Regions from separate parts of the Homo sapiens genome. Here region 2 is linked to region 1. Evidence: fine-mapped expression QTL. Tissue or cell type: prefrontal cortex. Region 1 holds a variant in brackets; the other region holds the start of a gene. All regions are shown on one strand. Distances are from middle to middle.

Evidence for each region. PIP is the estimated chance that this variant, and not a neighbour inherited with it, causes the effect.
Region 2: GALNT11 starts here. The variant in region 1 is fine-mapped to the expression of GALNT11 in prefrontal cortex (GTEx, PIP above 0.99). The same link has a PIP of 0.9 or more in hippocampus and visceral fat.

What each region holds. Positions count from the first base shown.
Region 1 is chr7:152,056,469-152,064,468 of GRCh38, forward strand. All of the region lies in intron 1 of GALNT11 (polypeptide N-acetylgalactosaminyltransferase 11), which reads left to right. Among named protein-coding and RNA genes, the nearest start is that of GALNT11, 35 kb to the left of the region's middle. The variant G/A (reference allele first, on the strand shown) is at 4,096.
Region 2 is chr7:152,022,167-152,030,166 of GRCh38, forward strand. It overlaps GALNT11 (polypeptide N-acetylgalactosaminyltransferase 11), which reads left to right and starts at 3,508. Exons shown (of 12, transcript NM_022087.4): 1 at 3,508-3,718. RefSeq lists silencers at 2,198-2,492, 3,343-4,042.

The DNA of each region.
Region 1 (8,000 bases):
TTGGAGTGAAGAGACTACAACTTAACCACTGGCAAAATCCATCCTCAGACTACTCTGCATGTCTACACACCCTTCTACACACATGTCCATGTGAGCATTCCCTTACCTAGAGACTACATTGTAACATTACAATGAAATTTGTATTAAATAATGAAGAAGCAGAAGTAAAAAGAAAATAGTTAACATATACAGAGACACACACCAAACCCATGAGAATGGACTCTGGAGGCTGTGTCCTTTGACTCCATGGACAAGACTCAACTAAATCATGTGGACACATTATAACCTCTAGAAACCAATATGCATACAGAACCCTGCACCTGGGTGTCAGGTGTCAGGGTTAAAGGAACGGTAGTTTGTTGGGTCAGATACTTTTTTTTTTTTTGAGACAGGTTCTTGCTTCACCTACTCAGGCTGGAGTGCAGTACATGATCACTTGGCTCACTGCAGCCTTGACCTCCCCAGGCTCAAGTGATCCTTCCACCTCAGCCTCCCAAGTAGCTGGGACCACAGGTGTGTGCCAGCATGCCCAGCTATTTTTTTTTTTTTTTTTTTTTTTGGTGTTCTTTGTAGCGACAGGGTTTTGCGATGTTGCCCAGGCCAGTCTTGAATTCCTGGGCTCAAGCTGTGTGCCTGCTGGGCCTCTCAAAGTACTGGGATTACAGGCATGAGCCACTGCACCTAGCCCAGATACTTTCTTTTTTAAAAAGCATATCATGGAAATTTTCAGACATGAAGAAAGTAATAGATTTTAAAAAATCTATTAGTAATTTTTTTTTTAACCTATAGCCCTGCCCTTCTTGGTTAATTGAAGCAAATCTCAGATATTAGATGATTTTTCCTTTTTTTTTTTTTTGAGATGGAGTTTCACTCTGTTGCCCAGGCTGGAGTGCAGTGGTGCCATCTCGGTTTACTGCAACCTCTGCCTCCCAGGTTTGAGCTATTCTCTTGTCTCAGCCTCCTAAGTAGCTGGGATTACAGGCGCCTGCTACCATGCCCGGCTAAATTTTGTATTTTTAGTAGAGATAGGGTTTCACCATGTTGGCCAGGCTGGTCTCAAATTCCTGACCTCAAATGACCCACCCGCCTCAGCCTCCCAAAGTGCTGGGATTGTAGGTGTGAACCACCGTGCCCGGCCAGAATTAGATGATTTTGGTGATGCAAAATAATCTATGTCCTGACCCCCGTTCTTTTTAAAATAAACTTTTAGTTTTAGCGTAGCCTTAGATTTACAGAATATTGTGAAGATAGTAGAGAATTCCCACATATCCCATATCCAATTTCCCCTGTTATTAACATCTTACATTAATATGGTACGTGTATTTCAGTTAATGCTAATGTCCATACTGTATTCAGATTTTCTTAGTTTTTACCTAATGTGCTTTTGCTGTTCTAAGGACAATAGGTAAAAGCTAAGGCTCTCATGCAGGATACCACACTGTATTTGGTCATTGTGTCTCCTTAGGCTCTTCTTGGCTGTGACAGTTTCTCACACTTTCCTCGTTTTTGATGACCCTGACAGTTTTGAGAAATACAGGCATATGCTGGTGATACTGTGGGTTCGGTTCTGAGCCACTGCAATAAAGGGACTATCACAAAGTGAATCACACACATTTTTTGGGGGGGTGCATATAAAAGTTATGTTTACACTATACCGTAGTCTTTTAAGTGTGCAATAGCATTATAGCTTAAAAAAAAAGCCCAATGTGCATGCCTTAATTTTAAAAATGCTTTATTGTTCAAAAATGCTAATGATCATCTGAGCCTTCAGTGAGTGGTAATCTTTTTGCTGGTGAGAGTCTTGCCTTAACATTGATGCCTGCTGATGCTTCCTGAAGGTTAGGATGGCTGTGGCAAGTTCTTTTTGTTTTGTTTTGTTTTGTTTTGTTTTTTTGAGATGGAGTCTTGCTCTGTTGCCCAGGTTGGTGCCATCTCGGCTCACCGCAACCTCTGCCTCCCGGTTCAAGCGATACTCCTGCCTCAGCCTCCCGAGTAGCTGGGACTACAGGCATGCGTCACCATACCCGGCTAATTTTTTTGTATTTTTAGTAGAGATGGGGTTTCACCATGTTGGCCAGGCTGGTCTCAAATTCCTGACCTCAAATGATCCGCCTGTCTCGGCCTCCCAAACTGCTGGGATTACAGGCGTGAGCCACTGTGCCTGGCCAAGTTCTTAAAATAAGACGGAAGTAAAGTCTGACTCATCGATTGACTTTCCATTCATGAAAGATTTTTCTGTAGCTGTTTGATAGCAATTTACCCACAGTAGAACTTCTTTCAAAATTAGAGTCAATCCTCTAAAACCCTGCTGCTACTTTATCAACTAAATTTAGTAATCTGCTTTTTGTTATCGTTTCAACAGTGTTCACAGCATCATCACCAGGAGCGATTCCATTTCAAGAAACCATTTATTTGCACATCCATATCTTCCGTCTCTATTTCTAATTCTGGTTCTCTTGCTATTTCCACCCTATCTGCAGTGACGTACTCCACTGAAGTCTTGAACCTGTCGGTCAAGGTTGGAACCAACTTCTTCTAAACTCCCGTTAATATTGACATTTTGTAGTTCTGGCAAATGTGGAATAAAAAAATAAATGATATTTTGACCTCCTCGAATGAATGGGTTTTTGTTGTTGTTGTTTTGTGAGATACAGTTTTGCTTTGTCACCCAGGCTGGAGTGCAGTGCTGCAGTCATAGCTCACTGCAGCTTCAAACTTCTGGGTTCAAGCAGTCCTCCCGCCTCAGCCTCCCGAGTTGTTGGGACTACAGGCATGTGCCACCATGCCCAACTTTTTTTTTTGTATTTTTTTTTTGTAGCGATTGGGTCTCACTCTGTTGTCCAAGCTGGTCTTGAACTCTAGGCCTCAAGTAACCCTCCCACCTCCACCTCCAAAAGAGTTGGGATTACAGGCATGAGACACCATACCTGGCTATAAATGTTCTTAATGGCATCTAGAATGATAAAGCTTTTCCAGAAAGTTTTCAATTTATTTTGCACAGATCCACCAAAGGAATCACTGTCTGTGACAGCTATAGTCTTACGCAATTTATTTCTTAAATAATTAGACTTGAAAGTAGAAATTACTCCTTGATCCATGGGCTGCAGAATGGACAGTGTGTTAGCAGGCATGAAAACAACATTTATCTCCTTGTATATATCCATGAGAGTTTTGGGGTGACTAGGTATGTTGTCAGTGAGCAGTGATATTTTGAAAGCAATCTTTCTGATTAGTAGGTCTCAACAGTGGGCTTAATATATTCAGTAAATCATGCTGTAAAACAGATGTTCTGTCATCCAGGCTTTGTTGTTCCATTTCTAGAGCACAGGCAGAGTAGATTTTGCATAATTCTTAAAGGCCCTGAGATTTTCAGAATGGTAAGTGAGCATTGGCTTCAACTTAAAGTCACCAGCTGCATCAGCCCCTAACAAGAGAGTCACCCTATTTGGAAGCCGGACATTGATATCTCTAGCTATGAAAGGTTCTAAATGGCATCTCCTTCCAATAGATGGCTGTTTAGTCTGCATTGAAAATATATTGTTTAGTGTAGCCATCCTCATCAGTGATCTTAGCTAGATCTTTTGGATAACTTGCTGCAGCTTCTCCATCAGCACTTGCTGCCTCACCTTACACTTTTATGTTGTGGAGATGATATCTTTTTAAACCTCATGAGCAATTCTTTGCCAGTTTCAAACATTTCTTCTGCAGCTTCCTTACTTTTCTCAGTCTGCATAGAATTGAAGAGAATTAGGGACTTGCCCTAAGACTGGTTTAAAGGAATATTTTGGCTGGTTTGATCTTCTATCTGGAGCACTAAAGCTTTCTCCATATCCGCATTGATGCTGTGTCACTTTCTTATTCCTGTGTTCACTGGCATAGCACTTTTAATTCCCTTCAAGAATTTTCCTTTGCGTTCACAACTTGGCTGTTTGGTGCAAGAGGCCTAGCTTTCAGCCCATCTTGGCTTTCCACATGCCTTCCTCACTAAGCTAAATTACTGGTAGTTTTTTTTTTTATATATATATACTTTAATTTCTAGGGTACATGTGCACAACGTGCAGGTTTGTTACATATGTATACATGGGCCATGTTGGT[G/A]TGCTGCACTCATTAACTCGTCATTTACATTAGGTATATCTCCTAATGCTATCCCTCCCCCCCCTCCACCCCACGACAGACCCTGGTGTGTGATGTTCCCCTTCCTGTTTCCAAGTGTTCTCATTGTTCAATTCCCACCTATGAGTGAGAACATGCGGTGTTTGGTTTTTTGTCCTTGCAGTAGTTTGCTGAGAATGATGGTTTCCAGCTTCATCCATGTCCCTACAAAGGACATGAACTCACCCTTTTCTATGGCTGTATAGTATTCCATGGTGTATATGCGCCACATTTTCTTAATCCAGTCTATCATTGATGGACATTTGGGTTGGTTCCAAGTCTTTGCTATTGTGAATAGTGACACAATAAACATACGTGTGCATGTGTCTTTATAGCAGCATGATTTATAATCCTTTGGGTATATACCCAGTAATGGGATGGCTGGGTCAAATGGTATTTCTAGTTCTAGATCCTTGAGGAATCACCACACTGTCTTCCACAATGGTTGAACTAGTTTACAGTCCCACCAACAGTGTAAAAGTGTTCCTATTTCTCCACATCCTCTCCAGCACCTGTTGTTTCCTGACTTTTTAATGATCGCCATTCTAATTGGTGTGAGATGGTATCTCATTGTGGTTTTGATTTGCATTTCTCTGATGGCCAGTGATGATGAGCATTTTTTCATGTGTCTATTGTCTGCATAAATGTCTTCTTTTGAGAAGTGTCTGTTCATATCTTTCGCCCACTTTTTGATGGGGTTGTTTGTTTTTTTCTTGTAAGTTTGTTTGAGTTATTTGTAGATTCTAGATATTAGCCCTTTGTCAGATGAGTAGATTGTAAAATTTTTCTCCCATTCTGTAGGTTGCCTGTTCACTCTGATGGTAGTTTCTTTTGCTGTGCAGAAGCTCTTTAGTTTAATTAGATCCCATTTGTCAATTTTGGCTTTTGTTGCCATTGCTTTTGGTGTTTTAGACATGAAGTCCTTGGCCATGCCTATGTCCTGAATGGTATTGCCTAGGTTTTCTTCTAGGGTTTTTATGGTTTTAGGTCTAACATTTAAGTCTCCAATCCATCTTGAATTAATTTTTGTATAAGGTGTAAGGAAGGGATCCAGTTTCAGCTTTCTACTTATGGCTAGCCAGTTTTCCCAGCACCATTTATTAAATAGGGAATCCTTTCCCCATTTATTGTTTTTGTCAGGTTTGTCAAAGATCAGATGGTTATAGATGTGTGGTATTATTTCTGAGGGCTTTGTTCTGTTCCATTGGTCTATATCTCTGTTTTGGTACCAGTACCATGCTGTTTTGGTTACTGTAGGCTTGTAGTATAGTTTGAAGTCAGATAGCATGATGCCTCCAGCTTTGTTCTTTTGGCTTAGGATTGTCTTGGCAATGTGGGCTCTTTTTTGGTCCCACATGAACTTTAAAGTAGTTTTTTCCAATTCTGTGAAGAAAGTCATTGGTAGCTTGATAGGGATGGCATTGAATCTATAATTATCTTGGGCAGTATGGCCATTTTCACGATATTGATTCTTCCTATCCATGAGCATGGAATGTTCTTCCATTTGTTTGTGTCCTCTTTTATTTCATTGAGCAGTGGTTTGTAGTTCTCCTTGAAGAGATCCTTCACATCCCTTGTAAGTTGGATCCCTAGGTATTTATTCTCTTTGAAGCAATTGTGAATGGGAGTTCACGCATGATTTGGCTGTCTGTTACTGGTGTATAAGGATCCTTGTGATTTTTGCACATTGATTTTGTATCCTAAGACTTTGCTGAAGTTGCTTATCAGCTTAAGGAGATTTTGGGCTGAGACGATGAGGTTTTCTAAATATACAATCATGTCATCTGCAAACAGGGACAATTTGACTTCCACTTTTCCTAATTGAATACCCTTTATTTCTTTCTCCTGCCTGATTGCCCTGGCGAGGACTTCCAACAGTATGTTGAATAGGAGTGGTGAGAGAGGGCATCCCTGTCTTGTGCCAGTTTTCAAAGGGAATGCTTCCAGTTTTTGCCCATTCAGTATGATATTGGCTGTGGGTTTGTCATAAATAGCTCTTACTATTTTGAGATACATCCCATCAATACCTAATTTATTGAGAGTTTTTAGCATGGAGGGCTGTTGAATTTTGTCAAAGGCCTTTTCTGCATCTATTGAGATAATCGTGTGGTTTTTGTCTTTGTTCCGTTTATATGGTAGATTACGTTTATTGATTTTCATATGTTGAACCAGCCTTGCATCCCAGGGATGAAGCCCACTTGATCATGGTGGATAAGCTTTTTGATGTGCTGCTGGATTTGGTATGCAAGTATTTTATTGAGGATTTTTGCATCGGTGTTCATCAGGGATATTGGTCTAAAATTCTCTTTTTTTGTTGTGTCTCTGCCAAGCTTTGGTATCAGGATGATGCTGGCTTCATAAAATGAGTTAGGGAGGATTCCCTCTTTTTCTATTGATAGGAATAGTTTCAGAAGGAATGGTACCAGCTCCTCCTTGTACTTCTGGTAGAATTCAACTGTGAATCCATCTGGTCCTGGACTTTTTTTTGTTGGTAGGCTATTAAGTATTGCCTCAATTTCAGAGCCTGTTATTTTCCTATTCAGGGATTCAACTTCTTCCTGGTTTAGTCTTGGGAGGGTGTATGTGTCCAGGAATTTATCCATTTCTTCTAGATTTTCAGTTTATTTGTGTAGAGGTGTTTATAGTATTCTCTGATGGTAGTTTGTATTTCTGTGGGATCGGTGGTGATATCCCCTTTATCATTTTTTATTGCGTCTATTTGATTCTTCTCTTTTTTCTTCATTAGTCTTGCTAGCGGTCTATCAATTTTGCTGATCTTTTCAAAAAACCAGCTCCTGGATTCATTGATTTTTTTGAAGGGTTTTTTGTGTCTCTATCTCCTTCAGTTCTGCTCTGATCTTGGTTATTTCTTGCCTTCTGCTAGCTTTTGAATGTGTTTGCTCTTGCTTCTCTAGTTCTTTTAATTGTATGTTAGGGTGTCAATTTTAGATCTTTCCTGCTTTCTTTTGTGGGCATTTAGTGCTATAAATTTCCCTCTACCCACTGCTTTAAATGTGTCCCAGAGATTCTGGTATGTTGTGTCTTTGTTCTCATTGGTTTCAAAGAACATCTTTATTTCTGCCTTCATTTCATTATGTACCCAGTAGTCATTCAGGAGCAGGTTGTTCAGTTTCCATGTAGTTGAGCGGTTTTGAGTGAGTTTCTTAATCCTGAGTTCTAGTTTGATTGCACTGTGGTCTGAGAGACAGTTTCTTATAATTTCTGTTCTTTTACATTTGCTGAGGAGTACTTTACTTCCAACTATGTGGTCAATTTTGGAATAAGTGTGATGTGCTGAGAAGAATGTATATTCTGTTGATTTTGGGTAGAGAGTTCTGTAGATGTCTATTAAGTCCGCTTAGTGCAGAGCTGAGTTCAATTCCTAGATATCCTTGTGAACTTTGTGTCTCATCGATCTGTCTAATGTTGACAGTGGGGTGTTAAAGTCTGCCATTATTATTGTGTGGGAGTCTAAGTCTCTTTGTAGGTCTCTAAGGACTTGCTTTATGAATCTGGGTGCTCCTGTATTGGGTGCATATATATTTAGGGTAGTTAGCTCTTCTTGTTGAATTGATCCCTTTACCGTTATGTGATGGCCTTGTCTCTTTTGATCTTCATTGGTTTAAAGTCTGTTTTATCAGAGACTAGGATTGCAACCCCTGCCTTTTTTTGTTTTCCATTTGCTTGGTAGATCTTCCTCCATCCCTTTATTTTGAGCCTATGTGTGTCTCTGCACATGAGATGGGTCTCCTGAATATAGCACACTGATGGGTCTTGACTCTTTATCCAATTTGCCAATCTGTGTTGTTTAATTGGAGCATTTAGCCCATTTACATTTAAGGTTAATA
Region 2 (8,000 bases), 34 kb before region 1:
GTAGTATAAATATGGAGTATCTTCTTAAAGTAACAGTTTTTTTCTAGTTGAAATTTGAGAATATATATATGTTATATATAATTATTATATGTAATATATAAATGATATATATGTAACATTAAAAAGTATATTTTTTTTCTGGTAAGCATAAAGAATGGATGCTGTAAATATCAGCTTTCCCAAAAGCAAAAGACAGGAGTGTTCTCTTTTGTTAAAAGCCGTGGGCCTAATATTAAGTCTTAGTTTTGTAATGTAATTTAGTTTAGGTACTAGATAACACAGATAAGTCCTAGAAATTGTTCAGCATGTCCCTTGGACAGTATCTTCTTAAATATTGCTTCAGTTGACCCTAAAATAGAAAAGAAATCAGAATCAATATCCAAATATTTGGTGTGATTAAAGGGAAATTGATACTTGCCTATAGATGGCAATTTTTTGTTTTTGTGTGGAAATTTAAAAATCTGATTTGTATTTTGAAGCTAGTTGAAAAGTATCTGGTAACCTGCTTAGGGTTTCTTACAAAACAGTTTTTGGTATGATGGAATGCTCAAACAAGTCTGAAATTAAGCCCAGGAGTTCTGTAACTAAAACATCCTTCTAGGAATTTATCCCAAGACACACCTGTATGAAACAACAACTAAGAAGAGCTGACATTTGCTGAGCTTTTACTACGTTTCATACTCTGTTATAAGTAGTCTGCATGGATTATCTCCTTTCATTCATACAACAACTTTATGAGTTCTACTGCTATCCTCATTTCATAGATGAGAAAACGATGGTTAGAATGTGCCCAGGTTAACGTTGCCCTATTTGGCTAATAAAAATACAGGATGCCTGGTTAAACTTGAATTTCAAATAGACAATAACATTTTACTGTACATATGGCTACATTCTGAATGTGTCTTCCATAATTCATGTTGAAACAACTGACAAAGCAACAGCACTACAGTTTGAATACCTTTTATCCCCACCAAAATTCATGTTGAGGCTTGGACCCCAGGGTAACAGTGTTGAGACAGAGTAGGACCTTTAAGAGGCATTTGAGCCATGAGGGACCAGCCCCCCATGAAAAGATTAACGCAGTCACTGAGAGTTCCCAGTCTCTTGAGACTGGATTAGGTACCTTGAGAGCGGGTTGTTAATAAGTAACATTGCCCCTTTAGCCAGTGCGCGCTTCCTCTTCCGATTCTCTGCCACGTTATGATGTAGCACAAAGCCCTCACCAGCAGCCTACCAGATACGGCTGCTGGATCTTGTACTTCCCAGCCTCCAGGAGAGTGGGAAAACAAATTTGTTTTTAAACTACCTAGTCTCAGGTATTTTATTATGGCAGCACAGATGAAGACAAGCCTCTCACATATTGCACAGGATATACTTAAACCACAAAATTATTCTTAATCTGGAATTCAAATTTCAGGCCATCCTGTATTTCATCTGGCAACTGTATCCAAGGACAAACAATAACACGGCCCTTACATGATCCTAATCAGCGTGGCCTCAAAGATTGTGTTTAACCAGAATGATACGCTGAAAAGAGCATTTTAGTGTCATTCTGTATGATAGTGAAAAATTGGAGCTAACCCAAATCCTCAATTACGAGAATAATGGTTAAGTAATTATTGCACATTAATCAGGTAGAATAGTATTTAAAGTAATAAACAGATGCATCTCATACTCATCAGGTTGGCAAATATTTAAATATCTGATACTATCAAGGGTCAGGAGAAGATGAAACAATGGAAATTTACATGCCCTGATTAATCCTAGAGCATGATTTCAAATGTTAATTTGTGTATAAATCACCTGGAAATCTTGGTAAAAATGCAGATTTTAATTAAGTAGGTGGAGCACAAGACTCCCCATTTCTAACACACTCCAGGTGACGTTGGTGTCGCTTGTTGCTGGACCACCATTTGAGTAGTGAGGCCCTAAAGGTCTGGTCTTCAAACTCTTTTGCTTGAGTATATACTAAAATAATAAGGTTTAAATACAAGAACTTAGTATCCCCTTATACATATTTAAGGTGATATTTAACATTTTTCATTACTAGTTTAGGTAGTTGGAAGGATTACTTTCTGGAAACATATTTATGTATTTAAATAAACTTGTAATACACTTTTAAATATACCTAGTAGACTTTGCCCTAGTTTGCCTGCCACTGCTGTGAATAGTTTCTGAGGGGGATCCCAGCAGGATTGATCCCCAATGACGCTTATTTGATATTATACTATGTATATTTTACATGAGCTGCAACCATTGAAGGAAACTGGGCAAAGATACCTGTGTGCTGTCTGCACTGCCCTTGCAAGAGAAACCAGTACCTGAAATATCTGTCAATCTCCAATCAAGACACAAGCATGGTAGAAGGAGTCAAAAGCATTCAACTTGGCACCCAGCAGCAGTTCTCTTTGGCTGAGGGAAGTGGCCACAAGACTCAGCTGGGGGCCATCAGCGGCCTACACACCCAACAACTGGAGAAATGAGTCCTCAGTCCTTAAGGGGAAACCTGGGTGGTACAACATGGCATCCCCTACACCCTGACAACCCCATGGGGTATCTGTGGAAGAGGGGCTGGGGAATGTGGTTAGCTCAGTTCAGCTCAAGAAGGCCACTACTTTGGTTCAGGTGGTGCTCTTTAATTTATAGTAGCTGTAGAAGTTCCTCCATTGCTACGCGTGTACCCCATCAGACTTTAATTGTGAAGCAATGAGTTCTTTAAAAAAGTTCAAAAATATTCTTAACCAAGTGGGATTTATTTCAGAAATGCAAAGAAGATTAGTATTAAGATATTCTTCAATATAACTTGGCATTATTGGCCAAAGATGAATGCCCACACCATTTTTCTTAAAAATTGCCAATTCCCCTTTTATGGTATTTGTATACATTGCACTATTATCACCAAGGTATGAGTGTTTTTTTCACCACTTCTCTCTTTACACCTTAATCTACATTTTCTTCTATCACAAGTGGCGTTTAACTTCTTTTAATATGTTTAAGGGCATTTGTCTTTTTTTTTTTTTTTCACTTATGGGGTCTCGCTGTATTGCCCAGGCTGGAGGGCAGTGGCTATTCACAGGCGCGATCCCGCTACCGATCAGCACAGGAGTTTTGCCCTGCCCGGTTTCCGAGCTGGGCCAGTTCCCCACTCCTTGGGGAACCTGGTGGTCCCTGCTCCCGGGAGGTCACCACACCGATGCGGAACACAGATGCGTGTCGCCGCGCAATGGGCACAGCGCATACAGCGCAGAGCTCCCGGGCTCAAGCGCTGCTCCCGCCTCAGCCTCCGGAGTAGCCGGGGCCACAGGCAGGGCATTTGTCATTAATGGGGTCTTTTGAGACCGCGGGTGACAGACAACAGGAGCCAGGCCACGCGCGGCGCCTCTGCGCGAACGCTAGGGAGGACTCAGCGCGCGGCGGCCGGTGACGTCAGGGCAGCGAGAGGTTTCGTCACCGCGGCGCGGGGGCGGGGCCGCCTGTCACGCGGCGCCGGCGGACGCGCGGCGCTGGGCGGAGGCAGCGGCTCGGGGACTGGGCGAGGGCCCTGGGCCTGAGGAGGCGCGGCCGCCACTGCGCCCAGCGCCTGCGCGACGCCTGGCTGCTGGGCCCCGGGGCAGTTCAGCCCGCGCCGCTCCTGCGGGTCGGACTGGGGCTGTGGCGGGAGAGAAGATGCCGCAGCCCGAGTCCCAGAAGGCGGCGATCCTGGGCTGCGGGCAAGGCGGTGAGTACCCTCTAGGCGGCGGCCTCCCGGCGTCCCTCAGCACCTCGAGAGCTGCGGCGGCGGCGGCGCGCGGGGCCTGGGCAGGCTGGGGGCGGCGGCGGGGCAGCGCCTGGCTCCCCGCGGGTCCTGGGCTCCCGCACGCCCCCTGGGCGAGGCTCGTGTCTCCGGGAGACGCCGCTGCCCCCGCGCCTCCCCCAGCGTCTCCTGAGGCTTGTTCGCGGGCGTGGGGGCGAGGACCAGGGCGCTGGCCTCGTTTTCGCGTATTTAGGACGGAGGCACACCTGATCCTGCAGCCTCCCCCAGCATTTCCTAAAATGAAGTCCAGATCAGTATTGTCCACTTTTTAAAATTAAAAGTGCCCAGAAATAGAATAGTTCACACATACACAAAACTAGGGAGAATAGTGTGGAAGGAAATTTAATCTCGGGACCCCAAATCACTAAGCCAAAGTCAAGCTGGGAGCTGCGTCAGGCAAACCTGCCCCTAAGTTTTGTTCCTAAGACAGCTGCAAAGATAAAAAGCCACACAGCTCCCTCACCCTTTGGCCAGGAGGAAATTCGCTGTGGACCTCCACATCTTTACCCTGAAACAGTTGTGTGGAATTGCACCCTGGCAGTGTAAATTGACAGCTTGTCTTCGCAGGTGAGGAACAGGGACAGAACTCAAGTCATCCTTCTGCTCACCTGAGACAGATGCATGTCTGACGGCTTCCTCTGCCCTGTATTTATGTAAAAATGCAGATTCACTGAGCCAGACTAAGGCACAAGTGGCTATTCCTCTGCCTGCCCCATGGCGTAAATTGTGTGTTCAGTAAAAGGCAGAGCAGAGGCTCAAAAGAATGTAGCCGTTTGTCTCTCATCTTACCCATGACCTGGAAGCCGCCACTTTGAGTTGTCCCACCTTTCCTGCCCGAACTAGTCTATACCTGTATTTGATTGAAGACTCATGTTCCCCTACAATGTATAAAACTAGGCTGTGCCCCCACCACCTTGGGTACATGCTCTCAGGATCTCTTGAGGGCAGTGTCATGGGCCATAGACACTCATTTCGCTCAGAATAAATCTCTTTAAAAATTTTTTTATTAGCCGGGTGCGGTGGCTCACGCCTGTAATCCCAGCACTTTGGAAGGCCAAGGCGAGCGGATCACGAGGTCAGGAGATCAAGACCATCCTGGCTAACACGGTGAAATCCCGTCTCTACTAAAAATACAAAAAATAAGCCGGGCGTGGTGGCAGGCGCCTGTAATCCCAGCTACTTGGGAGGCTGAGGCAGGAGAATGGCGTGAATCGAGGAGGCAGAGCTTGCAGTGAGCCGAGATCACGCCACTGCACTCCATCCTGGGTGACAGAGCGAGACTCCATCTCAAAAAAATTTATTTTTAATTTTTGTGGGTACATAGTAGGCATATGTATTTATAGGTACATGAGATATTTGATATGGCATAGAATGCATAATCACATCAGGATAAGCAGGGTATCCATCTTCTCAAGCATTTATCCTTTGTTAGTGCTACAAACAACCTGCAAGGCTCTTGTATTGGTTTGAACCCCGATGACGCACCAACAACCCCCACGACATGAGGCGGTGTGGAGCAACATGCTGTTTTAATAAGCGCCTGGGTGCAGACGGGTTTATGCCTAAATGGCATCAGCCCCAAGTGAGGAATGGGTTTTATAATAGCATCAGCCCCAAGTGAGGAAGGGGTTTTATAGTCCTCTGTAAGCAGGAAGTGTCCCAGTCTGACGTGGCTGCTGCGTAAATGTGTCCGGAATTGGTTCCTTCCAGTGGATTCTTGGTCTCGCTGACTTCAAGAATGAAGCCACGGACTGTCGCGGTGAGTGTTACAGTTCTTAAAGATGGTATGTCGAGAGTTTGTTCCTTCTGATGTTCAGATGTGTCCAGAGTTTCTTCCTTCTGGTGGGTTCGTGGTCTTGCTGACTTCAGGGATGAAGCCGCAGACCTTTGCAGTGAGTGTTACAGCTCTTAAAGGTGGCACGTCTGGAGTTGTTTTTTCCTCCCAGTGGGTTCATGAGCTCACTGACTTCAGGAGTCAACCTGCAGACCTTCGCAGTGAGTGTTACAGGTCTTAAAGGTGGCATGTCGAGAGTTGTTTGTTCCTCGCAGTAGGTTTGTGGTCTCACTGACTTCAGGAGTGAAGCCACAGACCTTCACAGTCAGTGTTACAGCTCATAAAGTTAGTGCAGACCCAAAGAGTGAGCAGCAGCAAGATTTATTGCAAAGAATGAAAGAGCAAAGCTTCCACAGCATGGAAGGGGACCCGAGCAGGTTGCCGCTGCTGGCTCCAGTGGCCTGCTTTTATTCCCTTATTTGGCCCCACCCACATCCTGCTGATTGGTCCATTTTACAGAGAGCTGATTAGTCCATTTTAGAGTGCTGATTGCTCTGTTTTACAGAGTGCTGATTGGTCTGTTTTACAGAGTGCTAATTGGTCGGTTTTTACAGAGTGCTGATTGGTGCGTTTACAAACCTTTAGCTAGACACAGAGCGCTGATTGGTGCATTTACAATCCTTTAGCTAGACAGAAAAGTTCTCCAAGTCTGCTACCCAGTTAGCTAGTCACAGAGCACTGATTGGTGCATTTACAATCCTTTAGCTAGACTGAAAAGTTCTCCAAGTCCCCTACCCGATTAGCTAGACACAGAGCACTGATTGGTGTGTTTACAAACCTTTAGCTAGACACAGAGCCCTGATTGGTGCATTTACAATCCTTTAGACAGAGTAGTTCTCCAAGTCCCCACCCGACCCAGAAGCACAGCCAGCTTCACCTCTCAATCCCCCCCCTCTAAACAGGACACCCCAACTGCTGTTGGGAATTTGGCCAATGACTGCTGTAGCTACTTCCTGCTGGATAGGGGTGAAGAAGGGGCCCTGCAATTGTAGTGTCCTCCAGAGGGGAACTCTTTAGGCCAGTGAAAGGGCCAGCAGGTTGGTCCAGGGGTCCTGGTAGAAGTTTAGTTGAGCTCATTTGGAGTTCCATTTGTAAGACCATCTGTAGCTTGATGGTCTCAATTCTAGAGGAAACAAATTTGAAAAGGAGGTTAAAAATACAGGGCCCGAAGGCAAGTAATAGCAAGATGGCTGCCACAGGACCTAGAAAGGGGAGAAGCCATGTTGTCCAACTCCAGAGGTTGGTGTAAGAGTTTGAAAGGCGTCTGATTTCAGAAGCCTTTTCCTATAAATGTTGGGTGGCATCTCATACTATCCCTGACTGGTTAGTGTAAAAACAACACTCTTCCCCTAAGAAGGTGCAGAGTCCTCCTTTCTCAGCAGTGAGGAGGTCTAGGCCTCGGTGGTTTTGGAGAGTCATTGCTGCCAAAGAGTCTATTTGGAATTGTAGTTACTATCCTTACTGGATAGATTTTGTTATTTCTTGCAAACTCTCTTGAGAAATCCTTTGAGAGTGTGGTAGTAGGATAATGAAGTAGGTAAACTGGCTATTCCAGTTCCTGTAGCAGTGGCCATTTCTAACCCTATAGGTAGGGGTATTAGTTGTATGGCTCTGCACTGACGGACTTGAGCTTTGAGGGGTACTGATAGGGTCTGATTTCCACAAGATTAGAAGTTAGAATAATATATGTTTACACTGTTAACTTTTAGCAAACTTTACTTTTGTTGAAAACCTTGTAAGTTTGGGATTTCAATTATTCTTTGCTATTAATAAGACCTCGTTCAGTCCATATTAACTTAGAATTGATATAGATGGCTCCTTCCTGATTCTGTAAGTACTTTAAGGTTTGGCTGAGTGCAAACAGCTCGCACATTTGAGCAAACCAATTATTAGGCAGTTTTCCTAACTCTGCTTCTACAGTTCCCTTATCATTTACTGAATACCCCTTGTGTCTTTTTTCCTTAATCACCCAGGAGGAACCATCTATGGTCCTGTCCTGAAGGGAGTTCCTCCTAGATCTGGTCGGACCTTTGTATGGTAGTTAGTTAAGATTTAGATCCCCTGTTAGGAAACCTGCTGGGTTAAGGATTTTTGATAGGAAGGCTATGGGTTGTCAGTGGCCTCAGTGCTTTTGGGCTACGCCCTTGTTTACACTGACAACAAGGTGGTATTGGAGTGTTACAGAGTTACAGAGAAGGCCTTCAATTATCAGTTATAGGTTTTAACTTTACTGTGGCTTTTAAAGGAATAGGGTGTAGGGTCCAGCCCCACAGGGTCGGTGGGTTTTTTCCCCGTGTGCGGAGACGAGAGAGTGTAGAAATAAAGACACAAGACAGAGATAAAAGAAAAGACAAGAGGTAGAGGAGTAGAGTC